Homo sapiens: one gene and its partners. The protein of the gene in region 1 purifies or fractionates together with the protein of each later gene. This does not show direct contact. Each region holds a gene or a part of one and is shown in the gene's direction. Other genes may lie near its edges. The genes, in order: AP1S1, TRMT1, NPEPL1, NHLRC2, AP1B1, TRMT61A and ARMC6.

The links.
Region 2: the proteins of AP1S1 (region 1) and TRMT1 fractionate together in Homo sapiens (co-fractionation; one large-scale study listed by BioGRID). This does not show direct contact.
Region 3: the proteins of AP1S1 (region 1) and NPEPL1 fractionate together in Homo sapiens (co-fractionation; one large-scale study listed by BioGRID). This does not show direct contact.
Region 4: the proteins of AP1S1 (region 1) and NHLRC2 fractionate together in Homo sapiens (co-fractionation; one large-scale study listed by BioGRID). This does not show direct contact.
Region 5: the proteins of AP1S1 (region 1) and AP1B1 fractionate together in Homo sapiens (co-fractionation; 6 studies listed by BioGRID and IntAct, with this or other methods). This does not show direct contact.
Region 6: the proteins of AP1S1 (region 1) and TRMT61A fractionate together in Homo sapiens (co-fractionation; one large-scale study listed by BioGRID). This does not show direct contact.
Region 7: the proteins of AP1S1 (region 1) and ARMC6 purify together in Homo sapiens (affinity purification with mass spectrometry; one large-scale study listed by BioGRID and IntAct). This does not show direct contact.

The regions. Positions count from the first base shown.
Region 1 is NC_000007.14:101,159,063-101,162,037, forward strand, and holds the end of AP1S1 (AP-1 complex subunit sigma-1A), read left to right. Parts: coding exon 1-134; intron 135-410; exon of another isoform or gene 411-493; intron 494-1,456; coding exon 1,457-1,504; 3' UTR 1,505-2,214; downstream 2,215-2,975. UniProt on the Homo sapiens protein: Subunit of clathrin-associated adaptor protein complex 1 that plays a role in protein sorting in the late-Golgi/trans-Golgi network (TGN) and/or endosomes.
Region 2 is NC_000019.10:13,106,425-13,110,748, reverse strand, and holds part of TRMT1 (tRNA (guanine(26)-N(2))-dimethyltransferase), read left to right. Parts: intron 1-442; coding exon 443-591; intron 592-747; coding exon 748-834; intron 835-910; coding exon 911-980; intron 981-1,064; coding exon 1,065-1,199; intron 1,200-1,282; coding exon 1,283-1,368; intron 1,369-2,889; coding exon 2,890-2,998; intron 2,999-3,098; coding exon 3,099-3,175; intron 3,176-4,324. UniProt on the Homo sapiens protein: Dimethylates a single guanine residue at position 26 of most nuclear- and mitochondrial-encoded tRNAs using S-adenosyl-L-methionine as donor of the methyl groups. tRNA guanine(26)-dimethylation is required for redox homeostasis and ensure proper cellular proliferation and oxidative stress survival.
Region 3 is NC_000020.11:58,690,844-58,695,954, forward strand, and holds the start of NPEPL1 (probable aminopeptidase NPEPL1), read left to right. Parts: upstream 1-1,956; 5' UTR 1,957-2,057; coding exon 2,058-2,207; intron 2,208-2,893; coding exon 2,894-3,079; intron 3,080-3,578; coding exon 3,579-3,749; intron 3,750-5,111. UniProt on the Homo sapiens protein: Probably catalyzes the removal of unsubstituted N-terminal amino acids from various peptides.
Region 4 is NC_000010.11:113,902,707-113,907,030, forward strand, and holds part of NHLRC2 (NHL repeat-containing protein 2), read left to right. Parts: intron 1-820; coding exon 821-1,030; intron 1,031-2,110; coding exon 2,111-2,330; intron 2,331-4,324. UniProt on the Homo sapiens protein: Required for normal embryonic development.
Region 5 is NC_000022.11:29,350,571-29,354,070, reverse strand, and holds part of AP1B1 (AP-1 complex subunit beta-1), read left to right. Parts: intron 1-2,245; coding exon 2,246-2,366; intron 2,367-2,804; coding exon 2,805-2,900; intron 2,901-3,500. UniProt on the Homo sapiens protein: Subunit of clathrin-associated adaptor protein complex 1 that plays a role in protein sorting in the late-Golgi/trans-Golgi network (TGN) and/or endosomes.
Region 6 is NC_000014.9:103,527,293-103,532,303, forward strand, and holds the start of TRMT61A (tRNA (adenine(58)-N(1))-methyltransferase catalytic subunit TRMT61A), read left to right. Parts: upstream 1-1,903; 5' UTR 1,904-1,969; intron 1,970-2,657; 5' UTR 2,658-2,686; coding exon 2,687-3,017; intron 3,018-5,011. UniProt on the Homo sapiens protein: Catalytic subunit of tRNA (adenine-N(1)-)-methyltransferase, which catalyzes the formation of N(1)-methyladenine at position 58 (m1A58) in initiator methionyl-tRNA.
Region 7 is NC_000019.10:19,036,153-19,040,476, forward strand, and holds part of ARMC6 (armadillo repeat-containing protein 6), read left to right. Parts: intron 1-4,324.

The DNA.
Region 1 (2,975 bases):
GCGAGCTGGACATCATCTTCAACTTTGAGAAGGCCTACTTCATCCTGGATGAGTTTTTGATGGGGGGGGATGTCCAGGACACCTCCAAGAAGAGTGTGCTGAAAGCCATCGAGCAGGCTGACCTACTGCAAGAGGTACGGGCCAGGGACAGTGAGGAGGAGGAGGAAGCGCACAGTGGCGGACAGGGTCCTCCCTCCCCTGGACACCCGGCCTGCCCTGCCCACCGTCGCCAAGGAGCCCCCCCTCCCTGTGGTATCTGACCCCCACCACGCCCAGCTCTCCAGCTTACTCTCAAGCCCTGACCCCATGGGGTGGGAGGTAGGGTGGCAGATAGCCCACCTGTGCACCCCTCATTCCAAGCTCTGTCCTTCTCCCAAGCCCCCAGATGTCTCGTGGCCACCCAGTCTCCTTTGTCCAATTCTCTGAGCAAGGCTTAACACCAAAGGGTTAAGGGTTTGCTCTGGAGTTAAGGGTTGCTTGGAGAATTGGAGAAGGGGCACCTGGTAGGTCATTCTTTTCTTCCCTGATTTCTTCCCCCACCTCTCTTTTTTTTTTCTTTTTTTTTTTTTTAACACACACATACTCCAAAGCCTCTGCGTCTCAGGAGGAAAAGGCTATGGGGATTTGGGGGCTGGCAGAGGGCACCTGGATGTTGGTTCTCCCTGCTCCCCAGCGCCCCCGCCCTCACCCCATTACTGCCTGCCCCCTCTCTGCTGTGCCATCACCGAGCCCTGGTGCAGGGAGATGAGTCACCGGAATCTGCAGTGATGAGCGAGCCCGGCCTGAGCTGGCTCTGAGGAGGGGGAGAGATGGGGGGCGAGGGAGGGCTCATCTTTGCAGTGGGAGAGAGGGCAGAACTGAACTTGCCACCTCACTGGTCGAGCTTCACCTTCCCACACACGCACACACACACACCCTGGCGCGCACACACACACACACACACACATGCCCTGGCACACACACCCATCGTGTCACCAGTGTTGCGCTCAGACCCTAATGACGCATCTCCCTGCAGCCTGGTTCACCTTCCCTCAGGGACCTGGCACTCACCTCCCTCTGCCTTTTCCCCACTCTGAAAAACAGGACCCAGTCAGCTGTACCCCCCAGGGCCCCAGAAAGATCCCCCACCTCCTTGTCCCGGCTTCACTCCCTTTACCCCCAGGTGTCAAGGCGGGGCCCCTGCTTACCAAGGTCCTGGCTTTGGGTTCTCTGGGTGGTGACGGACTCAACCTGGACCCCCCCTGCCACTGTTGGCTGGCTCTGGGGCTGGCCCTGGGAGGCTGGTGGGTGCCCCATGAAGGGCTCACTGGTCCGGCCTTGGGCTCACATTGGCTTCTCTCCCCCTCCCCCGTGTCTGTGCCTCCCCCGTCTGACTCTTCCTCGTGACTGCTGTCTTGCCCACCCTGTCGGCCTCTCCTGGTGTCTCTGCGTCACCCTCTGTCTGTCTCTGCCTTAGGAGGATGAGTCGCCACGGAGTGTGCTGGAGGAGATGGGTTTGGCATAGCCCCTGCTGGGCCGGGGTGTGGCGATGGGGTCCTGGCAGCGTGGCGGGAACGGCTGCTTCTCCTCTGCCCAGGGCCCTGTTCTTGGTGGGACTCGGCTGCCCCTCCTCTGCTGCCTCACCTTTCGGAGTGAGCTGTGGGCTCAGGCCCTTCAAACATTCCCTCCCTCCACCCCCTACCTCCACTTTCCCCTTTTCCCACTGAAGGTTTTAGAAGCTAGGAGGCAGGAAAATGTGACCCAGATGGGGGTGCTATTTGGCTTTTATTCCCTGCCTTTGCAGAACTGATGTCACCCCAGATGTCCTTCCCTCCCTAATAACTGTAAATATATAAATATGTCAGGTTAAAGGGAAAAGGTGTTCAGGGCACTTCTTGTCCTCTCTGTCCCATAACCTACCTCCACCCTCCCCCTAGCCAGCCAGGCAGCTTCTCTGCCTGGGAGGGGAGCCTGGACCCCCCTCTTTCTCCTTGGCTGCAGTGGGGCCTTTATCCAGTGCCAGGGAGGAACAACATAGTTAATTTTTTTCTAACCTTGCCACTTTGAGGGAAGGAAGGGTTGGGGGAAGGGCAAGCTTTATGGGACCCTGGTCCTGGCCCTGGCCTTTCACTCCAGTTCTGGGTGAGGCAGGAGCTGGGAGGGGTGGGGAGGGGGAGGGGGAAGTGTCTGCCTTTATGTCCTTTCTTCTGAAATAAAAGTAAAAGCATTTCTGGACTTTGCTGGCCTTGGGCTCTGTGAAGGAAGGCAGGGCTGCTGGCATCATCGGGAGGCCAAGGGGATCCTGCCAGCCTTGGGAAGAAACGGAGAGCACGCAGTTAAATGAGAATTCCAGATACACAACAAATCATTTTAGGGATAAATGTGTTGCATGCAGTGTTTGGGACACATTTAACTCTAAAACTGCATCTGTTGTGTATCTGGAATTTCAGATTTCATTTCCTGTATTTTATCTGGCCACCCTACCTTAAACGGATTTTTATGCCCAATGCGTCTCCAAACGGGCTGCCCCCAACTCCCTGAGCTGCCTTTATGGAAGGAGGAGCAACTCTTCAGGATGCGGGTCTGTTGTGGGTGATTTCGTTTGCCCAGTTTAGTTTTATTTGAATCAGTTCACAAGTACCTGCGATTAGAAAAGGCTTAAGATGGGAGGCCAAGGTGGGGAGGTCGCTTGAGCCCAGGAGTTCCAGACCAGCTGAGCAAGCTGGCAAAACCTCATCCCTACAAAAAATGCAAACATTAGCTGGGCATAATGGTGCACACTTGTAGTCCCAGCTACTCAGGAGGTTGGGGTAGGAGGATCACTTGAGCCCAGGAAGTCGAGGTTGCAGTGAGCTGTGATTGCACCACTGCACTCCAGCCTGGGCAACATAGTGAGACCCTGTCTCAAAAAAAAAAAAAAAAAAAAAGTTAAGAAGTGGCTTTAGCCAGCATGTCTCTGTGGCTGCCACTCCCTCCTCCCCGCATTTCTTGCAAAG
Region 2 (4,324 bases), on another chromosome or scaffold:
CTCAAACTCCTGACCAGCCTCCCAAAGTGCTGGGATTACAGGCATGAGCCACCACGCCCGGCCCAGGCCCCAGCAGTTCTACAGCACCTAGTATCCCCACTTCCTGCCCACAGAGCCCTTGGGGGCTGGAACGTGGGTCCTCAGTACATGCCACATGGCACACCGATAATGCTGGTCAGAATAGGTTGGATCTATGCTTTCCTCACTCGTTTAGTGCCCCCAGCAGTGCCACAGACAGGGACTGTTGTGATTTTGCAGATGAAGAAACTGAGGCACAGAGAGGGGATACTCACTTGTTGAGGGTCCCACAGCCAGGACTTTCAGGGGTGGGCTTGGATCCCAGGGAGCTGGCCCTGAGCCTGTACTTGTGAGTACCACATAGGGCTCCTGGTGGGGTGGGTGGATAGTGGAGGGGAGGCTGACACCCACCCCCCACCCCCAGGCCCTGAGAATCGTCCTGCACAGCCTGGACCTCCGCGCCAACTGCTACCAGCGCTTCGTGGTGCCGCTGCTCAGCATCAGCGCTGACTTCTACGTGCGTGTTTTTGTCCGTGTCTTCACCGGCCAGGCCAAGGTCAAGGCCTCAGCCAGGTCAGCCCGGGGGCAGAGAGCGGTGGTGGATTGAGAGAGGAGACAGGACCTTGCCCTGGGGGATCTGGGGCTTCTTAAGGGACAGAGCCAGTCTAAGGGAGGAGTTGGGGTGTCGTGGTCACGCTGGGAACTCGTGGCCACTGGTACCCCCCACAGCAAGCAGGCGCTGGTGTTCCAGTGTGTGGGCTGCGGGGCCTTCCACCTTCAGCGTCTCGGCAAAGCGTCAGGAGTCCCCAGCGGCCGGTGAGCAGGGAGGAAGGAGAAGAAGGGGAGTCCCAGGGTTTTCCTCCCTCCCCACCAACCACCCCTCTCTGTTTAGGGCCAAGTTCTCTGCAGCCTGTGGTCCCCCTGTGACCCCCGAGTGTGAACACTGTGGGCAACGACACCAGGTAGGGCTAGGCCAGGGGAGGCAAAGGAGCAAGAGGGTCTTGAAGGTCATAGTCCCTGCTCACCTGTCCCCGGTGCGCCCCCAGCTTGGTGGCCCCATGTGGGCAGAGCCCATCCATGACCTGGATTTTGTGGGCCGTGTCCTGGAGGCTGTGAGCGCTAACCCCGGCCGCTTCCACACCTCGGAGCGGATCCGAGGGGTCCTGAGCGTCATCACTGAGGTGAGAGCCGGGCTGTGACGGGGAAGGGGGCTCCACCTGTGCCCGTCCATCTCCACTCATGCCCATCCTGTCCCCCATCGCAGGAGCTCCCGGACGTGCCTCTGTACTACACCCTGGACCAGCTGAGCAGCACCATCCACTGCAACACACCAAGCCTCCTGCAGTTGCGGTAAGAGCCCCTGGGGTCGGGAGGAGCCTGTCCCAGACCACAGGGTGGCCTGGGGCAAGTCCAGGGATTCTCATGCATAGAACTTGCGAGGGGGTGGGGAGAACCCGGTGCACTGTCTCATTCCTGTAATCCCAGTACCTTGGGAGGCTGAGGCAGGAAGATCACTTGAGGCCAACCTGGGCAACGTAGTAAGACCCTATCTCTAACAAATAAATAAATAAATATATATGTACACACACATACATATACACACACATACATACGTATGTATACACACACACACACACACACACACCCATTAGCCTGGCATGGTGATACATGCCTATAGTCCTAACTACTCAGGAGGCTGAGGTGGGAGGATCATTTGGGCCAGGAGTTTGATGCTAAAGTGAGCTATGATCATGCCACTCCAGCCTGGGTGACAAAATGAGACCCTGTCTCTTTAAAAAAAAAAAAAAAAAAAAAAAATTAGGCCAGGCTTATTGGCTCATGCCTATATTCCCAGCACTTTGGGAGGCTGAGGTGGGCAGATCACTTGAGGTCAGGAGTTCAAGACCAGCGTGGTCAAAATGGTTAAACCCTGTCTCTACTAAAAATACAAAAATTAGCTGGGTGTGGTGGCACATGCCTGTAGTCCCAGCTACTTGGGAGGCTGAGGCACGAGAATCACTGGAACCTGGGAGGAGGAGGAGGCGGTGGTGAGCCAAGATTGCGCCACTGCACATCAACCTGGGCAACAGAGCGAGACTCCATTTAAAATATAATAATAATAATTAGAAAAAGAAAAAGGCCAGGTGTGGTGGCTCATGCCTGTAATCCCAGCACTTTGGGAGGCTGAGGCGGGCGAATCACTTGAGGCCAGGAGTTCGAGACCAGCCCGGTCAACGTGGCGAAACCCCATCTCTACTAAAAATACCAAAATATTAGCCAGGCGTCATGGCACATCCCTGTAATCTCAGCTACTCAGGAGGCTGAGACAGGAGAATTGGTTGAACCTGAGAGGCAGAGGCTGCAGTGAGCCAAGATTGCATCATTGCACACCAGCCTGAGCGACAGAGTGAGACTCCACCTCAAAAAAATAATAAATAAGAAGGCCAGGCACGGTGGCTCACTCCTGTAATCCCAGCACTTTGGGAGGCTGAGGCGGGCGGATCACAAGGTTAAGAGATCGAGACCATCCTGGCCAACATGGTGAAACCCTGTCTCTACTAAAAATACAAAAATTAGCTGGGCGTGGTGGCACATGCCTATAGTCCCAGCTATTCGGGAGGCTGAGGCAGGAGAATCGCTTAAACCCAGGAGGCGGAGGCTGTGGTGAGCCAAGATTGCGCCATTGCACTCCAGCCTGAGCGACAGAGCGAGACTCCATCTCAAAAAAAAAAAAAAAAAAAAAAAGAAAAGAAAAGAAATGAACTCTGTAGCCATGAGCCCTTGCCGAAGGTAGTCTTACCTACGCTGGTCAGCTTGGGCTTTGGGGTCAAGGAGTCCGGCATCTCCCTCATAATCCCTGCTGTTCCCCAGGTCGGCCCTCCTCCACGCTGACTTCCGGGTCTCACTCTCCCACGCCTGTAAGAACGCTGTGAAGACGGATGCCCCTGCCTCTGCCCTCTGGGACATCATGCGTTGCTGGGTGAGGGCAGGGCTGACCTCATGCAGGTGGGAGGGCAGGTGGTGGTCACCTGGAGGTCCCTTGGGCCTAGTATTCCCTAACCTCTGACCTCTGCCCCCAGGAGAAGGAATGTCCGGTGAAACGGGAGCGACTATCAGAGACTAGCCCAGCGTTCCGCATTCTCAGTGTGGAGCCCAGGTAGGGGCAAGCACATGCAGGAGCGGCCAGGGCTGCCCACAGACATGGAAGCACATGTGTGTGCAGACAACACAGATGCTGCCCCACACAGACTCGTGCCCATTCTTCAAGTGAGATTCAAAATCTGCTGACTGGGGCTGGGTAGGTGGCTCACGCCTGTAATCCCAGCACTTTGGGAGGCTGAGGCAGGTGGATCACCTGAGGTCAGGAGTTCAAGACCAGCCTGGCCAACATGGTGGAACCCCATCTCTACTAAAAATACAAAAATTAGCTGGGCATGGTGTGGTGGTGGGTGCCTGTAATCCCAGCTACTCAGGAGGCTGAGACAGGAGAATCGCTTGAACCTGGGAGGCAGAGGTTGCGGTGAGTCTAGATCGCGCCATTGCACTCCAGCCTGGGCGACAGAGCGAGACTCCATCTCAAAAAGAATAAAAAAATAGCTGGGTGCGGTGGCTCATGCCTGTAGTCCCAGCACTTTGGGAGGCCGAGGCAGGCGGATCACGAGATCAGGAGATTGAGACCATCCTGGCTAACACAGTGAAACCCTGTCTCTACTAAAAATACAAAAAAAAAAAAAAAAAAATTAGCCGGGCGTGGTGGCAGGTGCCTGTAGTCCCAGCTACTCGGGAGGCTGAGACAGGAGAATGGCGTGAACCCCGGGGGGCAGAGCTTGCAGTGAGCCGAGATAGCGCCACTGCACTCCAGCCTGGGTGACAGAGTAAGACTCCGTCTCAAATAAATAAATAAATAAATAAATAAAAATAAAAATAACTAAATCTGCTGACTGGGCTGGGCGTAGTGGCTCACACCTGTAATCCCAGCACTTTGGGAGGCCAAGACAGGCAGATCACCTGAGGTCAGGAGTTCAAGACCAGCCTGGCCAACATGACGAAACCCTGTCTCTACTAAAAATACAAAAAAAAAAAAAAAATTAGCCAGGTGTGGTGGCACATGCCTGTAGTCCCAGCTACTCGGGAGGCTGAGGCAGGTGAATCGCTTGAACCTGAGGCAGAGTTTGTAGTGAGCCGAGATCGCACCACTGCACTCCAGCCTGGGCGACAGAGTGAGACTCCATCCCAAAAGAAAAGAAAATTAGCATTACCAGCATACCAGGGGTAACTTTTTGTCCATTTTGTTCACTGTCTATTC
Region 3 (5,111 bases), on another chromosome or scaffold:
TACACAAACCTGCTAGATCTGGCTTTCTGAAATGCTTCTTGGATCCCTCTTCAGTTTGCAAAATTCTATAGAGTGAGCCAGGCTCCCCAGTCGATCTCCTCACCCACTCCTATTTTCCAGGAACCTTCTGTTCTAACCACACAGGTTTCAGAGCCTGCTGGACATATTCTGCGTCTGTGTTTCCTCCCAGGACTTCTCCCACGTGGAAGGCCTTCTTTCTCAATCTCTTCGCCTGTGGAAGTCCTATTACATCTGTCAGGGCATGGCCTTAGTCTCTCACCCTCTAGGAAGATCCTCCAGCTGTCTCAGTCCTCTGGAGTGCCGTGTGCCTGTCTGCAACGTATTTGCAAACAGAAAAAAGAGTGAGAGATCTTCATACACACTGTTAGTACCCTTTACCAATGTGTGAAAACATTCAGCTGCTGTAAAATCTTTTGAAGAAAATAAGATCCAATTAGCGTTGACTTTTATGTCGGGAAAGCTGAGGGTTTCAAAGGAATGCCTTTCAGTCATTCAACAGCTTTTTTTTTTTTTTTTTTTTTTTTTTTTTTTTTTTTTGAGTGCCTGCTCTGTGCCAGGAACTGGAGGAAAAAAAAACAACAAAAAGTCAAAAAGACCTGCCTTCAGGATGCTGAAGCTCTAGTCTGTGGTGTTTCCAAGGGGCCAGGGACCATGGCTCAGAGCTGAGCAGACAGACCTGGAGCCTGTGGACAGGGAAGGTGAAAGCCTGGCTTGTGGCTCCCGGGGCTACAAGTTAGGGAGCTAGGGGGCCAGCTGGGAGGTCAGTGGTGGAAAACCTCTCACACCACGCCAGGGAGTTGACAGTGCTTTTTTTTCTTTTTTTCTTTTCTTTTTTTTTTTTTTTTTTTTTCATTTTTAGGCTGGTTATGAAGAAGAAACTCAAAATAACAGGAGTGGCTTATGGAACTACATGGAGGTAACAGAGGAGGGTACCAACCAAAGGCCCTTGAGCAATCAGGATGTTGGGTAACAGATTTTTGCTTTTAAATGACTCCTGGGTGGAGCTTCCCCAATGCATCGTCATTCCCTGACCCTTGCATCTGACCCTGTGGGTGGGACCCTCCGCCTCCACCATCCACTCAAGGCTCACCCCTGGCTCCTCCACCACCCGGCTCCTGCCCCACACCCCCGATGGCCTTTCCTCCCCTGTAAGGCGACTGAGGTGACTCAGGTCACCCTGCTCCTTCCTCGTCTCATCTCGTCCCTCCTTTCCTGCTTAGACTGTGCCAGATGACCCTTCTTGCAAAGGGGTGGGCGGGAAGGCCCCCCATGCAGCCAGGCAGTGCCTGGATTTGTAACTGGCCATCCCAGCAGCAGTGCCCTGGATGGAAAGCCACGTCCCTGTCACCCTCTCACATCCAGGGCAGTGCCTGGCAGAGCGGGGTCTGATAAACGCCAGGGAACCTCCGATTAAGTGAGGAGGAAGTGACCGTCCACGCTGTACCCACCATGCCAGGCAGTGGGACAAAAGGACCTGACTCAGGTCCAAGAGTCACTGGGCCCCTCCGGCCTAACTGATGGGTGGCCAGGGTGCGGGGTCCCTGGGGATCAAAAGCAGCTGCTAAGGGACCTCGGGGGACCTGCTTGGGGCCAGCCTGAGGCCTGACCGGGCGGAACTGCGTCGGGTGGGCTTGGGCCTACGTCGGCCCAGGCCCCACTGGAGGCCAGGCCCGTCCGGGAGGCGCTGCCTGGCGGGCCACGTCGCCCCGCGTGTTGGGCAGGGCCGCTAGGCCCAGGGGCGGCGCCGCTGGAGGCCGGGCGCGCGGGCCCTACTCGGCAGGGCCTGCTCGGGGCCGGCTTCGGGCCTGCCCGGCCGGGCCTGCCCGCACCCTTCCGCCCGGCCTGGCCGGCGCCCCCTCGCGCCCCGGGCGGGCCCTGCACGTCTCGCGAGCAGCCCGGAGCGGCGGGGGAGGCGGGGCCCGCGGGCTGCCGGGCAGGGCCGGGGCGGTGCCGAGGCCGGGCCGGAGCGGGGCGAAGGGGGCCGAGCGGCGGGCCGGGCCGGGCCGGGCAGGGCCGGGGCGTGGGCCGGCAGGAAGATGGCGAACGTGGGGCTGCAGTTCCAGGCGAGCGCGGGGGACTCGGACCCACAGAGCCGGCCCCTGCTGCTGCTCGGGCAGCTGCACCACCTGCACCGCGTGCCCTGGAGCCACGTCCGCGGGAAGCTGCAGCCCCGGGTCACCGAGGAGGTGAGCGGGCCGCCGGCCGCCATGCGACCCGCGCCGCGGAAGCCCAGGCCCGGGCGGCCCGCGGAGGCCCCGCCTCGCCCGCCGCACCCCCGCCGCCGCCGGGCCGGGCCCAACGAGGCCGGGCCGCCTCCCTGAAGGGCTCAGCCGCCAGGCCAGTCCTCGCCCGCGGAGGCCCAGCCCCAGGCCCCGTCGCCGGTGCGGCGCGGTGGTCCTCCTGTCAGCCCAGCCCTGCGCCCCGCGAGGCCGCGACACCTGCGGACGGCGGGGGGGGAGACGTGGCCGCTCCCAGGGCCGCGCGTCGGCCCCGCCTGGCGACAGGCCCTGGCTTCCAGAAGTTCCCATGGCAGTGTCCCCAGCTGCCTTTCCTTGGGGACACCTGGCCCCTGCCCCCTCTCTGGTGGAAGCCGCCTAAGCCCTATCCGAGTGTTGGAAGCAAAGCAGCCCCCAGCCTGGCCCTTCCAGGCTTGGTGGCTTCATCCCACCAGGGGGATGCGAGCCAGCCTAGAGACAGTTAGCTCTGCAGAGAGGCGACACATCTCCCTAAGGATGGGAAAACGGTGGCCGGGAGCTGCGCAGTGCCCTTCCAGGACTGCAGGAGTGGTTGTGGCCGTGGCTGCAGGGCAGGGCCTCCTGGCACGTGGCCGCTGTTTGAAGCCTCTGTGTCTTGTCTCTCCCTTCTGATCTAGCTCTGGCAGGCTGCCCTGAGCACGCTCAACCCCAACCCCACGGACAGCTGTCCCCTCTACCTGAACTACGCCACCGTGGCTGCCCTGCCCTGCAGGGTGAGCCGGCACAACAGCCCCTCGGCCGCCCACTTCATCACGCGGCTGGTGCGGACCTGCCTGCCGCCCGGAGCGCATCGCTGCATTGTGGTGAGTGCTTCGAGAGGAGGCAGCCACGGTGCTCCTAGTCGGGCAGCGGTGAGCTCGGGCCTGGGGAGCTCACAGCCCTGCTCAGACTGCAGCGCACGCCCAGAGGGCTGTGGACGTTATCATCCCTGCTCTGTAGACAGGGAAACAGGTCCAGAGAGACGCGGGGATTTGCCCCAGATCAGTTTTGGTGGCAAATCAGAGACTCAAACCTAGATTTCCTGAGGCCCACTTTGTGTCTGTCCCTCTGTCCCTCATTTTCATGGCTGGTCAGGCTGTTGACATCTGGTGGCCAATGTGTTATTTCTCTTGGAGCATGACCAATGGTGGTCCCATGGTTCCGGGGATGACCTGAGGGATGGGGTGGCGGCTGCTGTGGGACATCTCTGTCTAGATGTCACCTGCCAGGGAGCTGATGTTCCGGAGGCGTTCAAAGAGCAGCTCCCTGCACTCCCTGGTGGCGGCCCTTGCACCCCTCACGCCGTCTCCCTATGTGCCACAGATGGTCTGCGAGCAGCCGGAGGTCTTTGCTTCCGCCTGTGCCCTGGCCCGGGCCTTCCCGCTGTTCACCCACCGCTCAGGTGCCTCTCGGCGCTTGGAGAAGAAGACGGTCACCGTGGAGTTTTTCCTGGTGGGACAAGACAACGGGCCGGTGGAGGTGTCCACATTGCAGGTGGGTGTCTGGAAGGGCAGACACTGCCCCTGGGCCCGGGCAAGATCGGGCAGGTGGGAGGGAGGTCGGGAGAGGGAAAAGCTTGTTGCGGGGGCAGGAGGGGGTTCCTGCCCTTCCCAGGAGCTTTGGTTCCTGGGAAGCGGCAGAGGCTTTTCCAAACCCAGGCCCCCTGCCTCTGCCTCAGCGTGGTCTGTGACTTCAGGATTCTGTTGTATACAGGCAGTGTTTGTTGAGCACGTAATCAGTGCCAGGAACGTCCATGCTGTTTTCCAAATAACCCTGCCCGTTTATGTGAGCTCCGTGTGCACGTGTGTGATGTATGCACGTGTGTGTGTATGTGCGTGCACATGTGTGTTGCTGTGCGTGTATGAGTGTATGTGCATGTGTTGTATGTGTGGGGGGTGTGTGTGTGCATGTGTGATGTGTGTGTGTGTGTGGTATGTGTTGCTGTGTATGTTTGCTGGTGTGTGCATGAGTGGTGTGTGTGGTGTACGTGTGGTATGTGTTGCTGTGTGTGTGTGTTTGCTGGTGTGTGCATGAGTGGTGTGTGTGTGTGGTGTGCATGTGTGGTGTGTGCATGTGTGGTGTGTGTTGTTGTGTGTGAGTACTGGTGTGTGCATGAGCAGCATGTGTTGCTGTGTGTATGAGTGCTGGTGTGTGCATGAGTGGTGTGTGTGTGTGTTGTGTGTGTTGCTGTGTGTGTATGAGTGCTAGTGTGTGCATGAGTGGTGTGTGTGTGGTGTGTGTGCATGTGTGTTGCTGCACCCTTTACAGGGAGCACTTCTACATGTGTTATTTCACTCAATGCTGAGAATGATCCTTTTGAGGCTGCAAGGCCGGAAGTGATTTCCCAGCTCCAGATCCTTGGATGGGCCTGACATCAGGCTCCTGTCCCCACGGCAGCGGTCCCAGCCTCTGCGCCTGCCACCTCCAGTCCCCGAGCCCACAGCGCCACCCAGGTTGTCTTTTCTCATGTGTCAGCGCTCATTCTTCACTTCTGGCTCTGGAAGGCTGTCGCCTTCACCCAGGCAAGCTCTCCCACATCAGCACTTGGGCCACACCTCATTTCTTTCACTGTGTGCTCTCTGAGGCCTGTAACCACTGCCCCTCAACCCAAATTCTTCCATCTTCACCAGCATGAGATAGCTCCCCTTTTTTCCCTTCGTCTCTGAGCTTTTAAAAAAGTCTAACTGGTTTGCCTTGCTTAATCCTCTTTTCCCTCTTAACCCATGGAGACAGAGTTTTTGCCCCCATCCTGACATTGTTTTCTAAGGACTGCTGGATGGGGTGTTGCCGTCCCTCCTTGAAGTGCATCTGCCCCATCCAGAGGTCTCCCTCCCTCCCGCTGCTCCCCAGACTGCT
Region 4 (4,324 bases), on another chromosome or scaffold:
GTCTTTGACAACTATAACCCAGCCTGTTCTGCTCTTTTCTTGGTCCTTTCTTTGCCAAGAGGTTATGATGGTATTCTGAACTAGGGAAAGCACAGAACCAGTTCCAATGGCAATAGCCAACAGTTGTGAATTGCAACCCATCAAAGCTGCTTAGTAACATATTCAGTATATCAAGAGAAGGCAAGTAGCAGGGAAATTTATATGTCATCTAACAAATGAACGTTTTTGAGCTGTTGCATAGTTACAGTGCTTGTTAGTAAATAATTTTGTTTTCAGCATTTCCATTTTTGTCTATTAAATTGTCTTAAGTTTTATTGCATTTTTACTTTTTACAAAAATCAGTGGATAATAAATGTTCATGCAGTACTTCATGATGTGAGACCATAAATTTAATATAATTGAGACATAACTGTCAATCATTAAGTTTAACAAAGGTAGCAAATTCTCAGGCAATGCTAGATGCTCAGGAAGACAAAGTCAGTTCAGTTGTGAAAGTGTGTCCCATTGTGAAGAAAAACAATTCAATAAAAAAAAATTTTTTTTAATTCCAGAAATAACTTCATCAAAGATTGCTTCCAGAAGACAAGATGGAGCTAAGGATTTTACATAGTCTTTAGTTCTTAGAATAGAATATCTCCCCTTAGACTGCAATTTGAATGTTTGGCTTTTCAAGAAAATATGGAAATAACTATTCCTTTTGTGAGACTTATTGAGAATATTAATGGCAATCAGAAATTAGCTTGCTTGATACCATACTCTTCCATACAACAAACATGAGATTGATCTTCAGTTATATAAGTTTTTGTTCTTTCTTTTTTAGATTAAAGTTGTGGATCCAAAAACAAAAAACTGTACAACATTAGCAGGAACTGGAGACACAAATAATGTTACCAGTTCCAGTTTTACAGAGTCAACTTTTAATGAACCAGGAGGCTTGTGTATTGGAGAGAATGGAGAATTATTATATGTAGCAGACACCAATAATCATCAAATTAAAGTGATGGATTTAGAAACTAAAATGGTATCTGTGGTAAGTAATTTTAAAATATAAGTTAAAGAATGTGGTTTTAAGAATGATACTAAGATCCTCACAGCACTGACAGAGGCATTTTTGGTTAGACCATCTCCAGGAGAGTATTAAGTGGATGCTTCTGTTGTATTCTTTGACAAAGAGACCAGCAGGACTGCTTTAAGGATATCCTTTTATTCTTAAAATAAAAGTTCCATCTGTGCTGAGAGTTTGAGAAAAATACTGGAAATTGGAGATAATCTAATGAACCTTCAAGAAAAAAAAAAGGAGAGGACTCAGATCTGTTTTTAAGTGTACAGACATACTGACATACACTACATACACCTGCTCTGTGGGTTGGGTTATTTAGCTTATTGTTTTTGTTTTTTTTTTTTTTTCAGTGATCTTTAGATTAACATGTAACCTTTGTTTGCCTGTGATGAATCCATTACCAAATAATCTAACAAAAGCTTTAGAAGCCACTTTCTCAAGACATCGAAAATAAGATTGTGGAAGAAACTTAAATGAGTTATAGTCAGTTTTTAAAGATATGGACGTGGTTTCTTATAGAATTTTCAAGGGGAAATGTCTATTATAAACTAACTCTTGATGTATGACATTTACCTGAAAAAAATGCAACAGTTTTTTTCTGAAAAACTGGTAATTTGCACGGTATATTTTTAAAAGAAACATAGATTACTATTGCAACATAAATGTCATTTCTCTTCACGTAGATCTCTGATATAAGATGAATAACATCTTCTTATAGTTGACAATGAAAATTATAAGAAAATGTATATCTAGCATGTTTAAATTTATAAACTTTTGCTTTAATTTCCTGCCGTCTATATACATTGGACAGTTACTTTAATTCTGCCTCATTCATAAGTGTTGGGTTTTGTTGTTGTCGCTAAGATAAACTTTCTCTGTGTCTACGAAAATAATCTTGAGGGCATCTAACACATTCTAATTCAAACTAGAATGGCGATTAGTTTCATTGACATAGAACTTCATTATTCTACTAAAGTCTAAAAATATGCTCTCATTCTATAATTAATATAAAGTTCTTGTGTTTTAATAACAGATTTTCTTATTTCCTAGCTCCCCATCTTCAGATCTGAAAATGCTGTGGTAGATGGCCCGTTCCTAGTAGAAAAACAGAAGACATTACCCAAACTACCTAAATCTGCTCCAAGCATTAGGCTTTCCCCCGTGACTGCGTGTGCTGGCCAGACTCTTCAGTTCAAACTCAGATTAGACCTCCCATCAGGATCAAAGCTAACTGAAGGAGTATCCAGTTGCTGGTTTCTAACAGCTGAAGGTATGAGTATAAGCTTGCAAATACTAATACATCATATATTCTTGATGTTTAATCTAGTTATTTTTTATTTGTTAGGTGATATTTTTACTCTGTATAGGCAAGATTTGAAGATCATATGAACAAATGAATCCAGATCCAACCCCACATTGGCCATTTGCTTTACTCATCAAGAGTCTTTCTTCCCTTTTATTAAAGAACAGTGTAACTCACCAAAAGTTACAAGTCAGTTGTTAGCATGATTTCTTGGAATGTGGGTTTTCCTATACCTCATCCCTTATTCTGATCCTGTTCTTCATTCTATTCTTGTTCCAAAAAGAATCTTAGAGTTAAAAAGTCTGAAATAGAGAAAGTGGAGCCCTCGTATTTAACATCTTTTTCTGTGACTCTTCCTTTCAGTCACTCTTGGGCATTCCTCCCTTTCTTCTATTTGTGAATCACAGTATGAGCTAGCTCCTTATTTCATTAATCTATGGTAAGGAATCAGTATACTGCTTGCCTTGCAGTATGCATTCCAACATCTGTAACCTGGTGGACAAAAATTTTAAAGTGAAATTTTAGTGGTTCAGAACTTCTAAATTACAACTTGTCTCTAATGATATTCCTCTGTCCTGGTCTCCCACGCTCTTTCACACTTTCTCACTCAATTTTCCATTTCCTTCCCAACTCCTCCTCCTTCATACCCTCTCACACACTTTTCTTTTGTACATTACCCAAATCCTGGGTAATTCATTCCTTCTTACCTTCAACTTTCTCAGGGCAGCAGCCACTGGCCTGCAATTATAATATCAACTTAGTGTCTAAACCAAGAGGATAACGGTATCTTGGTAGACTGGCTGGGAGGAACTGCTGGTTAGTGTTTGGGAGGCTGGTTCTAGGGTGATTGAGTCTGTAGGGAAACCACCCCTTGTCACTTCCCACAAGGGGGAAGGCTAACCATGTACTAGGACCTTTGGAGCTTGCTTTGTAGACAGAAGAATACTCAAACCCTGGCCACTCCATAGCCTTTTGTAGGTTCAGAGCAAGTTCTAGACTGCCAATTTAAGTCTGGAAGTATTACATCAGTTGGAGAACATTAATTTTTCTCAGTGTAACTGTAAGAGCAGTCACTGTTAGAGCAGTGTATTAAATGGTGTCACTGTAGGAGCAGTGTACTAATTTTTAAAATAGGATATTGACAGATTAACATTGGTCTGCATTGTCAGACACACTAATTAATATTGAGTCATTGGGATATAAAATACAGATAGTATTCAAATAAAGTAGTCTATAGAGACTTTATCTAATTTGTCCAAGATATGGGCCCCATTTTTATTATATAGTAGCAGATAATTTTCAGGCAATAATCCTAATAATTTAAGGTTTTTGAATATTATAGAGTACATTTGTACACTTATGTTTAAAGGACATTTTCTCTTTTGGCTTGTTATTTAGAAACACTTATTTTTAGCCAAATTTTGGTCTGTATAATCTTAAAGAAGTTAGAATATATGCAAGTTTTAAGCCAAAAAAAAAAAGGCAGCATAAAAGCACCACATGTGTTGTAACTTCACAAATTGTGTGTGTGATATATATGACAAATATCTAAAGAAACATTTTCTGTTTTATTTCTAGATTTGGACATTAAAATAGCTCAGTATTATTTTCTTTGTTTGATTTAAAATATAAGAAATTGGCCAGGCGTGGTGGCTCACGCCTGTAATCCCAGCACTTTGGGAGACAGAGGCAGGCAGATCATGAGGTCAGGAGATCGAGACCATCCTGGCTAACACGGTGAAACCCATCTCTACTAAAAATACAAAAAATTAGCCGAGTGTGGTAGTGGGGTAGTCCCAGCTACTCAGGAGGCTGAGGCAGGAGAATGGCGTGAACCCGGGAGGGAGGCAGAGCTCGCAGTGAGCCAAGCTCACGCCACTGCACTCTAGCCTGGGTGACAGAGCGAGACTCCGTCTCAAAAAATAATAAATAAAATATAAGAAGTTCTCTACTAATCTCTC
Region 5 (3,500 bases), on another chromosome or scaffold:
TGGCTGAGCAGTGAGCTGCTGCTCCCAGGGCACGTGGTATGGTAGTGGGGGGTAGGCGAGAGCAGAAAAACCATTGAGCAGTGCTGGATCGGAGGGGTTCATGGCATGATCCCCTTCTTCCTCTGAAGTGGCTCTGAGTGGCAGAGCCCTGCAGCTCTGGGGAGGGGGATTGACCTTGAGTTCTCCTCACAGCTTTTGGTCAAATGGCTCAGTCAGCAGTGGGGACTTGACAGTAGCAACCATTGATCATTCGTGGGGACTTGACAGTAGCAACCATTGATCATTCGTATGTTACAGCAGGCCCTGTGGCTGGGAGTGGGGCTACACAGAGAACTGGGGCCTCATTAGTCATTTTCTCTTGGAAGACAGCACATCCTCCTGGTTGTAGCTTCAGTCTGGGTCTTAGTACTCTCCCGGGGGACCCAGAGATATTGGTCGAATTGGGTTATTAGGGAGGTAAATATGGGAAAGCCTTCTGAGTTCCTAAACCAAGGGATGAAACTAGGGCTTCCTGGTTGCAGTGTGGGTCTTTATACGCCAGTGCCCTTGGGTCACGGATTTAATGCGGCGTAGTGACTAGTAGAGCAGATCAGCGTGCAGGATTCCCTGTGCTATATTTAACATAGTAAATCTCTTAAGAATTTGTCCACGTCACTGAGACATGCCCTGCCCTGGTCCTGAGATGTGGCTGGGCAGCTTTTGCCAAGTCCTAATCGCAGAAATATCTTCCTGCTACCCAGCTCGGGGTCTTGCCTCTCCCATGGGGCACGACAAAGGCTCCTTGCTTGGCCAGGACCTCCCCGCAGTGTGCACAGCAGCACAGAGTACCCAGTTTTCTCCTTTCTCTCTGTCCTGTCTTCTCCCTTCCTCACCATCTGTCCTCGTATCTTTTCCTTCCTCCTCTCTGTTCTGGAAGGGCATAGGAGTAGGAGTCAGAGGCAGAGGATTCTCGCCCCACTCTCGTCTTTACTGACATTAGCCATGTGACCTAGTACCAGCCTCTCACCCTCTCTGAAGTTTCCTTGTTCAGGAAAAATGTGGTGGGTGATACTCGCGGAAGGCAGAAGGATGTTGCCTTTGAGGGAGGAACAATGACACATGTGAAAGGGCTCAGCTAGTGACAGCTCCTGCCTAGCGGTGCCTTCTCTGAGGCAGGCATCGATCATGCTGGATGCTTCTCGTCTCACTCTCACAGCAGGCCGATTAGGTCGGTGTCCATGTTGGGGTCCCAAGACCACCCTCATGCTCAGGTTTCACTAGCAGTACTCACAGGACTCAGCATATATTTTTTAAATATATATATTTTTTGAGACAGGGTCTCACTCTGTTGCCGAGGCTCGTCTTGAACTCCTGGACTCAAGCAATCCTCCTGCCCCAGCCTCCCAAAGTGTTGGGATGACAGGCATGAGCTGCTGTGCCCAGCCAGGACTCAGCATATAGCTATACCCACAGCAAAGATCTATCAGCAGCAGAGCAGGGCTGCCCGGCTGGGTCATAGGGGAGAAGGACACAGGTGGAGTCTGGAGGGTTCCATGAGAGGCTTCCTTGTACCTCCTCCTTCCCATGGGGAGTCATACAGAGCACACTCCTCCCCCAACAAAATGCAGCAACATGTATGTAATGTTTCTGCCCAGGAAAGCCTATTTGAGACTTCGGCACCCAAGTTTGTTATTGGGGGCACCTACACAAATTCCATATTCCCAGTAGGGAAGCATGTGTTCAGCATAAACTGTATTCTTTGTACAAATGGTCTAGGTACAGTTAAATACCTTTATCATTTAGGGAACAGTGAGAACACTTCAAAATCCAAGTTGCCACGTGCCAGGCCTTCTGAGGCTAGCAGTCCCAGACCTGCAGTAGTAACATGTTTCTGTACAGCGTCATTCCCATTTCATGGGTGAGGAAACAGGCCTGAGGTCACAGGCTGGGACTGGGACTGAGATATGTCTGATTCCCAAGCCCGTCCCATGGGGCCTGCTGCCTCTGGAGAGTGAGTGAGCCGTCTCTCACTGCCCTCCGTCTCCCTTCCGGCGACGTGCTCAGGCACACAGGAGCAGTCACAGCCTTGCTCAGGCCGGTTGCTGGGCCCTCTACCCAGGAGCTTGCAGCCATGGCAGTGACTCTGCCTTCACAGACATCAGGCTCCACCTCAGACCCCAGAAATGTCCCAGCAAATGTGGAGGGCATTTTCTCACAGGGCTTAAGCCTTGTTTTTTGCTCTCCGGGCATCCTGCCCCACCACCAGGCCTGAGATCCTGAAGCATGAGATGAAGGTGTTCTTCGTGAAGTACAACGACCCTATCTACGTGAAGCTGGAGAAGCTGGACATCATGATCCGCCTGGCCTCTCAGGCCAACATCGCCCAGGTCAGCTGCGTGTGATGGTCAGGACACGGGCTCAGTGTGGGACCATTCCACCACCACCAGACTGTAGGCTCTGGCCCAGGTGACCAGTCTCACCATTAACGGTTTATCTCATGAAGAGTGTTTAGCATGGGACATGGGGCTTCGTAAGCAAGTAAAAGAACTGATGTTTTTATTACTAAAGAATGTTTCTCCATGTTATCACCTGTCATCCCTTACAACGTGGTGTTGGATATGTTAGCTAAATCAACCCCAAACAAGGTTGTCCAGGCCTTCTTTCCTTTTCAGGCACCTGCCAGCTCTCTCCCTTGGGCCTTCTACCTGGAGCAGGAGGCAGAATCCCATTCTCCTAGGGAGTCTGTGTATATTCACTGCCCAGGAGTGTTCCAGCAGATTGCCCCATCAGGTGCCCCAGCCCCATCTTTTCTGTTTGGGCCACAGGTGTTGGCAGAGCTGAAAGAGTACGCAACAGAAGTGGATGTGGACTTTGTACGGAAGGCTGTGCGTGCTATTGGCCGCTGCGCCATCAAGGTGGAGGTGAGGCTCTGGGACTCTGTCCTTGGCTGGAGAAGGAAAAGGGGGCTGAAACCGGGAAACCAGTCTGATTCAAGCAGAATCTGCCAGCTTGCTTGTGGTCTGGGAAGGCCTGAGGCTCATCACTGGAGCCCCCATGGCAAGCATTGTGCAGATCTGGTGGGGTTCCTTCTCACTCTATAGTATCCTTTAGGCCTTCGAGTTGCTGCCGATCAAATTAACCCATCATAATCATGGTTCTCCTGCAGCATTTGTTAAGATGCTGGGGCAGCCACAAGTTAATGGACTTAGCATTCACTTCACAGAGCTCTGGGGTAAGGGCCCTGCCTGTTGAACACTTCTTGGCAAATATTGTCATCATTCAGCTGCCCACGTGCCTCTGTGTCCCAGCGTCCCAGGGCCACTCTAGACTCCTGTGTCCTGGCATTTTATCCCCGTCCTTTCTCTGTCTGTGGAGATGTTCCTCGACCACTAAGCCAGATTCTCCTTAAATGGGTCCACTGGTGGCTACAGTGTCCTAGGATAGGTGGTCGCCCCCGACCTATCCCCTTGAGGCGTGCTCACCCTGGAGCCTATGATGCCGTCCTGAGAAATCTCCTTCAG
Region 6 (5,011 bases), on another chromosome or scaffold:
TACAAACTCTGCACAGGGAATCATCAGCTGAGGTAGGGGGGATTGGTTCTGCTTGAGGACTCAGGCTGGGGACTGGGGCAGGCTCAGATGGAGCAGGTGGGCAGGGCTGAGGAGGCTGCCTGGAGGAAGGGGCACTGGAGGAGTTGACCAGCCAGTAATAGACAGAGAGGCAAGAGGGAAGTCGGAACCAAGGGAAACCACCGCCGAGTCACCAAGTCCTACCTTAGGCCCTTATAGGCACCCGGCCCTGACTCCACACCAACCACAGCTGAGAGGCTGGGGAAGAGAAACCCAAGAGAAGTGGAAAGTCAGAATCCCCCAGGGGAGAAATTAGGGGGTGACTCAGGCGGGTGCATCATCAAGGGAGAGAAGCATCCGCTGGAACACAGGTTCGGGAGCTGTGGAGGGGGCTGTTTCAACGTTGAGAGCAGAAGGCAGGGAGGCTGTAAGGCAGAAGTAGAGGCAGCTGGTGGCCAGCGTGGTGGCCCCACAGGGACAGGAGCCCACAGAGAGTGGGAGGCCATGGAAGGCCTCTCACCAGCTTACTCCTGGGGGCTCTCAGCCGCAGCTAGGGCAGGGACACAGAGGGGCTGAGGTTGGACCCCTAGGTTTCCATGATGGACCCTGAGAAGCCAATGCAAGGGCCACAAACAGCCTGGCCTGGCCTGCCCCAGAGGCGAGAGAGTTGAGAGTGCTCTACAGGCTGCCAGGGCTCCAGAGGGGAGCTCGCTCTGCAGGAGCCTGGCCACCTCATCTTACCAGGCTGGAGTGGCTGAGTGACTGGGGAGGGTGCCCTAGGGTCATTGCTAACTGGCTTGGGTTCGGGCGCAGGCTAAACCCTAGGCTGGGTAGGGGGGTCTCTGTTCCTCTCCAAGCTCTGGTCCTGAGAGCTAAGAGCTGGAGGAAGAAAATCCGTGTCCCCTGCCCCCGCTCCCCTGCACACACACTCCACAGAGGAGCCAGCTGGGAATGGTGTTGCTGAGACAGAACGCCACTCCCGCTTCCCTGTTCTGCCCATCCTCCAGCAGCACCTCCTCCAGTCTCCTGCCCAGGCTGCTCACCAGACCCAAAAGTGGGCCCAAGTCATCCAGTTCTCATTATGCCTTGGTTCGCAGGAGGGGACACAGGACCCCTACTCCCTCCTAGAAGCAGCTCTGCACTCAGGACAACGTGCCCCCGTCGGGGGAGGCAGGGCCTGGGCGGAAGGCCACTTCTGCAGACTTTTCCAGGCCCCCATCTGCTGCACAGAGCTCTGGCTGACCCTAGCCCAAGCCTTTTAGAACCGCCCCTTGACCTGCGATTCCTTTTCTGGAATTCATTTTAGGGCCCAGTCAGGGGTGTTCCCAGAGCAGTCTGCAATAACAAAATGTCTATGGCGAAGTGTCCTCATAGAGGACTGGGCAGTGAGCCACGGGCCAGCCCTCTGGTGAACCCCCAGGGGCCGTCAAAGGGGTCCGGGACAGCAGTGACAGCCAGGCCTTGGCTCCTGCCGCCCTTCAAATGTGCCTGGGTGCGACGGCAACCCGCGGCCGGCGGGGCGGGGGGACCTTTTGTTTGTTTGTTATTATTTGTAGAGATGGTGGGGGTCTCACTACGTTTCCCGGGCTGGTCTCGAACTCTTCAGCTCAGAAGAACCTCCCGCCTCGGCCTCCCAAAGCGCGGGATCACAGGCGAGAGCCACCGCGCCGGCCGGCCGCCATATGGATTTTGTCCAGTCTTTCGATCTTCCAGCGACCAGCAAATGTAAACAGAGCAGCTCACATGAGGGAAGAAGTCGCCCAGGAAACGTCCTCTGGGAGGGGCGGGAAGGGCAGCCTGGCGCTCCCAGGATCCCGTGCGCGGAGGGGGGGAGGGGGAGGCGGAGGCGGGGCGCGACGTCATCAGCGGGCGCGGAGCCGGAAGTGTTGTGGCCGCCGCCGCCGCGCGTCGCGGAGGCACGTGTGGAGCCCCGGCAGCAGGAGCGTCGCAGGTGAGACTCCGCGGGGTACAGGGTGGCAGGGCGCGGGTGAGGGTGACCCGGGCCGGGCACGGCGCGCAGGGCCTGTCCCTCCAGCCTCGCATGGGCGGCCCCCGCCGGCCCGGCCTGGCCCCTTGTTGCCTCTGCATCGGCTGGGCGGTGTTTGCGTGGACGGCCAGCTCCGCGTCCCCAGCCCCTTACTGGGGAGCCCTGAATCCTCTGTCATACCCTGCCACCTAGCCCCCGTGGGGGAGACTGGGGTGAGGAATCAAGCCTGGCTTGGAGGTGACCTCATTGACCATTTGCCTCTCCCCCGCCGGTGGACACCTCGCAAAGGCGCTTCCTCATCTCACATCTTGGGAATGGGAGTCAAGCTCCTGGAGAAGGGTGATGGGAGGGTCGGGTCCTCACTCCGGGAATCCTTGGGACCGAACTCCGCCATTGCCAAGCCTCAGTCTTTTCATCTCTGATTTAGGCTCATAGTCCCTGTCTCTTGTCCTAGACCAAGAAAGGCTTCAGAGGCCAGGCCAGAGTGCAGCGCTATTGGGCTCCCTGTCAGGCAGTGGCAGAGACTGAGGCTGAGCTAGCCACACCCCGCCCATGCCCACTGCTGGGATGTAGGCCTCGAAGCCTTCTACCTAGACCCTAGGCCCTCATCCTGCCTCCTGACTTGCTCATGCCTACACACACCCCTCCCCAGGTCCTTGGCCCTTGCCAGACATTAGCACCATGAGCTTCGTGGCATACGAGGAGCTGATCAAGGAGGGTGACACGGCCATCCTGTCACTGGGCCATGGTGCAATGGTGGCGGTGCGTGTGCAGCGTGGGGCACAGACCCAGACCCGGCATGGTGTCCTGCGGCACTCAGTTGACCTTATCGGCCGCCCCTTCGGCTCCAAGGTGACGTGCGGCCGAGGTGGCTGGGTGTATGTGCTGCACCCCACGCCCGAGCTCTGGACGCTGAACCTGCCGCACCGCACGCAGATCCTCTACTCCACAGACATCGCCCTCATCACCATGATGTTGGAGCTTCGGCCCGGCTCTGTGGTCTGTGAGTCTGGTGAGTTCCTCAGGCTGCCTCAGTTTAACGCAGAAATTGACACAAAGGTGGAGGTCAGAGCCTCCAGCCTGCCCTTCCTACAGACACATGTGGCTCCTCAGTTTCTATTTTCACATCTTTCCGGGATGCTGACAGCAGGGAGTGAAGGTGGAGGCAGAGAAGCCCGTTAGGAGGCTGGTGCTGTAACTGGAGTGAGAGGTGGTGGGAAATGGACCAGGAGGAGCTGGGGAGGACTGGTGCTCTAGTGAGGGTCCTGCTTGCCTTGGTGGGGCGTGGCCAGCTTGATGCTTGGCGCTGTCCTAGGTACTGACCGTCAACCTCTAGTCCTCCGTGCTGATGGTGAAGCAGAGAGAGTTGCCCCTTCTGGAAAGAGGCCAGGGCTACCCCGAGGAGCTCACTGTAGGTGGGGAGCCTTCCCCATCCTCATCCATGATCAGATCCTCACCTGCTACCAATGAATGTGAGCACCATTGTTGAGTCCAGGGCCTGGGCTGTGGGAACCCCTGCACATATACAGGTGCTGGGGCCGCCCAGTGTGGCGATTGAAGCCAAGATTGGCCCCAGGCGCTGATGCATCTAGGTTGTTGGTGGCGTGTTCCTCCCGGGCAGGAGAGCTAGGGTCCAGGTTCACGAAGAGTGCCTAGCACTGCCATGCTGGCTTTCTGAGGGCTGCAGGTCACCATGTCCCTCCCTGGGGTGTCTGGGTGGGAGGGGTGGAGAGCAGGACTTAGCCAACTCCATCAGCTGCTGCTCCTGTGCATCCTGTGGTGGGTGCTGGCCTCTCCGCCCCTGCCCCACTCTCGCGAGAGAGCTCAATCAAGCAGCACCTTCTCCTGGCCTCCTCAGATATGCCAGGTCCCCTCCTAGGAACCGTGAACTAGAGAGACCAGGTTCCTGCCCTCGAGGAGGGGGACACAGCCTAGGTGAGCATCTCAGTGCCGCTGGTTGCTGTGAAGCCTGTGAGACAGGGCTGCGTGTCTGAGGGGTACCCAGAGTGGGGACTCTCCAGCTAGGCCAGGCAGGGAAGACCTCTCTGAGGAGGGGACATTTGAGTTGAAAATGATGAGGAGGGACCTACGAAGAGCCAAGGGACAGCTCTGCACCAAGGAGGAGCCGTGCCGAGGCCCTGCAGTTGGAGCATGCTGCCGAGTCAGGCTCAGTGGGGGAGGCAGAGGGGCTGGGAGTGAGGTTGGAGGGGAAGCGAGCTCCACCCCGGAGGCTAACAAGTCTGACTTGCCCCTTAGTGGGAAGGGGGCATGGCCAGGCTTTGCAGAGGGGCGAGGCAGCAGGCTGGGGGCACCCAGGGGAGGGGCTGGACAGGTGGGGAGAGGGGCTGGCCCCTGAAAGGAATGTGGGAGGTGGCAGGACGTGGGACGGGATAGAGGGAGTGGAGGCACCTCCATGGGTCTGGCCCAAGCACTTGCGATGCTCAGCGCTATTTGGGTTCCAGGCATGGGTGGCAAGTGTGCAGTGGCTGCTCTAGCAGGAGTCTCCAGTGGAGGGGCCTGGGGATGGGAGTGGCATCAGGTAGATGGCCCCTGAAGCTGGAGTGGGAGGAGGGATGCAAGCCTTGACCCTCTCCATAAGACAGGAAGTCAAGCAGAGGGGCCATCTTGAGGGAAGCTGGGGAGGGAAGCTGGGGGCAGGTGCGCTGGGGAGGACTGGGGCCGTGTGGCTGGTGGCCAGGCCCTGCGTCCTGAGTCCAACCAGGCCAGGGCAGAGCCCCAGCCCCTGTGTGGTGGGGGCAGGTTTGGGCAGGCTTGGTGGGGGTGGGCTGTCTCAAGGGGACCAAGGAGCTTCTGGGGAGAGGTGGGCATGAGGACCGGCAGGGTGGGCCACTGTTGACGGGGATTGAGGAAGTGATGGGCCATGCATGGAATAAGACAGGGCTGAGTGATGGGATGGCCTCCCTGTCCCCCTTGCACAGATTTCCCCGGAGGCTCCAGGCAGCTGGGCTGCTCTCATTCCCTATACCTGCGCTAGGCAGGATAGGG
Region 7 (4,324 bases), on another chromosome or scaffold:
CCGGGTTCAAGCAATTCTCTTGCCTCAGCCTCCTGAGTAGCTAGGATTACAGGCGCCCACTACCACGCCCAGTTAATTTTTATATTTTTAGTAGAGACGGGGTTTCGCCATGTTGGTCAGGCTGGTCTCGAATTCCTGACCTCAGGTGATCCACCGGTGTCAGCCTCCCAAAATGCTGGGATTACAGGCATGAGCCACGGAGCCAGGCCAAATCTGCATTTTTACATAAACGTTAGGGCAGAGAGAGCAACTGGATATGCATTTGTCTCAGGTGATGACTTTCTGTCCTGCACTTGTGAAGATCACCTGTCAATTTACATTGCCAGGGTGACATTCAACAAAATTGTTTTCAGGTAAAGATCTTGAGGGCCACAAGGAATTTCCTGGCCTGGCCGGGGTGGTGGGAGTGGAGTCCCCTACTCCTTACTCCCTACTGAGAAACTCTTTATATTACTCTTCCTTCACCTTTAACCTTGGAAATCCATAGCAGCCCTTAAAGAGCTCCCTTTTCTTCTGGGGCAGAAAGGAGAGGGGCCTATCTGCAAAAGAGTGAGATGGGACTCCTGCATAAACTTGCTGAATTGCCTCTTAAGCAACAAAGGAAAGGAACAAATAGCTAATTTATTGAGCCTGTCCATATCCTGTTCTGAGGAAGGTATAGGAGTTGGCTGAATTTTTCACTACTGCCCTATGAAGTAGATTCGTGTTTATCTCTGTTTGACACATGAGGGAATTGAAGAAAAGTGTATCTGGCTGGGCGTGGTGGCTCATGCCTGTAATCCCAGCATGATGGGAGGCCGAGGCAGGTGGGTCACCTGAGGTCAGGAGTTCGAGACTAGCCTGGCCAACATGGTGAAACCCTGTCTCTACTAAAAATACGAAAATTAGCTGGGCGTGGTGGCGTGGGCCTGTAGTCTCAGCTACTTGGAGGCTGAGGCACAAGAATCGCTTGAACCCAGGAGGCAGAGGTTGTGGTGAGCCAAGATCGTGCCACTGCATTCCAACCTGGGCGACAGAGCGAGACTCTGTCTCAAAAAAAAAAGAAAAGGGCATTGAAGTGGAGGGCATGGGAACTGGGTTCTGCAGGCTGGCTGCGAGCCAGTCCTTCTCCCGTCAGGCAGTGTGCAGTCCATGGTGGGCATCTGCAGGAACACAGATGGAATGTGTATATCCCATGCCACTGCCTGAAAAGAGAAGCATGGGCCAGAGTGACCTGTTTCTTTTTCCTTTTTTTTTTTTTTTGAGACAAGGTCTTACTTTGTCACCCAGGCTGGAGTTCAGGGATATGATCTCAGCTCACTGCAGCCTTGACCTCCCTGGGCTCCCACCTCAGCCTCCCAAATAGCTGTAACTACAGGTGCATGCTCCCACACCTGGCTAATTTTGGTATTTTTTATAGAGATGGAGTTTCGCCACGTGTCCAGGCTGGTCTCAAACTCCTGGCCTCATGTGATCCTTCCGCCTCGGCCTCCCAAAGTGCAGGCCACCATGCCTGGCCTGAAGTGGAAACTTGATAATTCCAGAACGGAAACTTGATATTACTGCAATAAGCAAGGTGGATATATTGAAACAATTAAAATTTAAAAAGTTGTTAACCTCTGTTAGGCTCTGGACCTAAGGCCTGTTCCTCCTTTTGTTCCAAAGGGACGGTGGCAAATGTTAGGTTCACTCGTACCCTGTCAAGACCTTCTGGTTAAGATCATCTACAGCAGGGGTCCCCAATTCCTGGGTCACAGACCCATACTGGTCCAGTGGTCCCTGGCCTGTTAGGACCTGGGCTGCACAGCAGGAGGCAAGCGTAGGGTGAGCGAGTGAAGCTTCATCTGTATTTACAGCAACTCCCCATCACTTGCATTATGCCTGAGCTCTACCTCCTGTCAGATCAGCAGCATTAAATTATAGGAGCACGAACCCTACTGTGAACTGCACATGCAAGCGATTTAGGTTGGGCACTCCTTATGAAAATCTAATGCCTGATGATCTGTCACTATCTCCCATCACCCCCAGATGGGACTGTCTAGTTGCCAGACAACAAGCTCAGGGCTCCCACTGATCCTACATTACAGTGAATAGTATAATTATTATATTACAATGTAACAATAATAGAAATAAAGTGCACAATAAATGTAATGAGCTTGAACAATCCTGAAACCATCCCCACCCTAGCCCCACCATATCCATGGAAAAATTGTCTTCCACGAAACTGGTCCCTTAGGCTAAAAAGGTTGGGACTGCTGAGCTACAGGTTTGAAACAGAATTGCAAAGGGATTTGGTGTTTTTACCAAGAGTTTTATCTTACTTAACTCTATGTCTTGTTCCCACCTGTCAGAGTGGAAGGTACTGCCCAAGGTTAGTGGGTCATCTAAGTGTTGATACCTACCCCTGGTTTCCAGGGTATGCCTATACTGGGTTTTACTTGTTTGTTTATTTATTTATTTTTTGAGACGAAGTCTTGCTCTTGTTGCCCAGGCTGGAGTGCGATGGCGTGATCTTGTCTCACTGCAACCTCCACCTCCCTGGTTCAAGCCATTCTCCTGCCTCAGCCTCCCGAGTAGCTGGGATTACAGGCGCCCCACTAATTTTTGTATATTTAGTAGAGACGGGGTTTCGCCATGTTGGTCTTGAACTCCTGACCTCAGGTGATCTGCCTGCCTTGGCCTCCCAAAGTGCTGGTATTACAGGCATGAGCCACCATGCCTGGCCTTACTTGCTTATTTTTATTTTATAAGGTGGGTTTGTGTGTATACACACACACACACACACACACACACACATTTTTTTTAAGAGATATGGTCTCACTGTGTTGCCGCAGGCTGGTCTCAAACTCCTGTGCTTGAGTGATCCCCCCGCCTTAGCCTCCCAAGTTGCTGAGATTACAGGCACAAGTCATTGCTCAGTTCTTTTTGTTTTTAAACAGATTAGCACTTTAAGAAATTGAGCTATAATTTACATACCATAATATTCACTCATTTGATTTAGTAATTTTTTTTTTTCTTCTGGAGACATGGTCTCCCTCTGTCATCCAGACCGGAGTGCAGTGGCCCAGTCACAGCTCACTGCAGCCTTGAACTCCTGGGCTCAAATGATCCTCCTGCTTCAGCCTCCCGAGTAACTTCAACCACACGCAAATGCCACCACACCTGACTATATTTTTAAATTTTTTTGTAGAGACGGGGCCTTACTATGTTGTCCTTGCTGGTCTCAAACTCCAGACTTGAAACAGTCCTCCCACCTTGGCCTCCTAAAGCACTGGGATCACAGGTGTGAGCCACCATGCCTGGCCTGATGTAGTGATTTTACGTTTTCACAGAGTTGTACAACCATCATCACTATAATTCAAGAACGTTTTCATCACCCAGAAGGAAACCCTATACCCATTAGAAGTTACTCCCCATTCCCTCTCCTCCAGTCCCTGGCAACACCCAGTCTGCTTTTTGTGTCTGTGGATTTGCCTGTTCTGGATATTTCATGTCATTGGAATCGTGCAATATGAGGCTTTTCGTGTCTGGCTTCTTTGACGAGACATCATGTTTTTGAGGTCTATCTCCATTGTAGCATGCTTCAGCACCTCATTCCTTTCTCTGGCTGAGTAATATACCACCATGCGCACAGACCATTTTATCCATTCATCTGTTGGTAGACTCCGTCTCCTTTTCTTTGTTCTTGTGATTTATTTGTTGAAAACTCTGGGTGTTTGTCCTCTAGTTGACATTCTCTTCCCTAGTAGGGATTTTGCAGATCACATCCCCATGGTGTTGGTTAAGGTGTCAGAGCTGTGCTGTGCAATACCATAGTCACTCGTCACACATGGCTATTTACATTAACAAATTAAAATGAAATAAAATTACACACTCAGTTCCTCAGCCACACTGCCACACTTCAGCTGTGTGATAGCCACAGAGGCCAATGGCTTCTGTACTAGGCAGTGCAGATAGAGAACGTTTCATCATAGCAGGAAGTGCCCTGAATGCATGATCAGATTCGGGTTTGAGATTTTGGCACGATGACTTCACAGGTGCATTTTGTTCTTGTTCAGGAGGTAGGTGTTGCTGGTTTCTCTTGATGATGTGAGATCAAGCAGTAGACTGAGTTCCTGTCTACCCCTTGTTGGGCTCCCATCAGTTTTACACCTGATGGTTTTGGATCCTGTGGGATCATTATCTGTTTCTCTCCTGTCACAGCTGATCAGCTGGAATCGGAAGCAGAACTTTTCCTCATCCTCTTTTTATAACCTGGGACTCATTTGTACAAGGGAGGCAGGTTAAGTGCTAGGTTTTTTTTAAAAAAATTGTTACTAATTATTGTAGAGACAGTGTCTCGCTA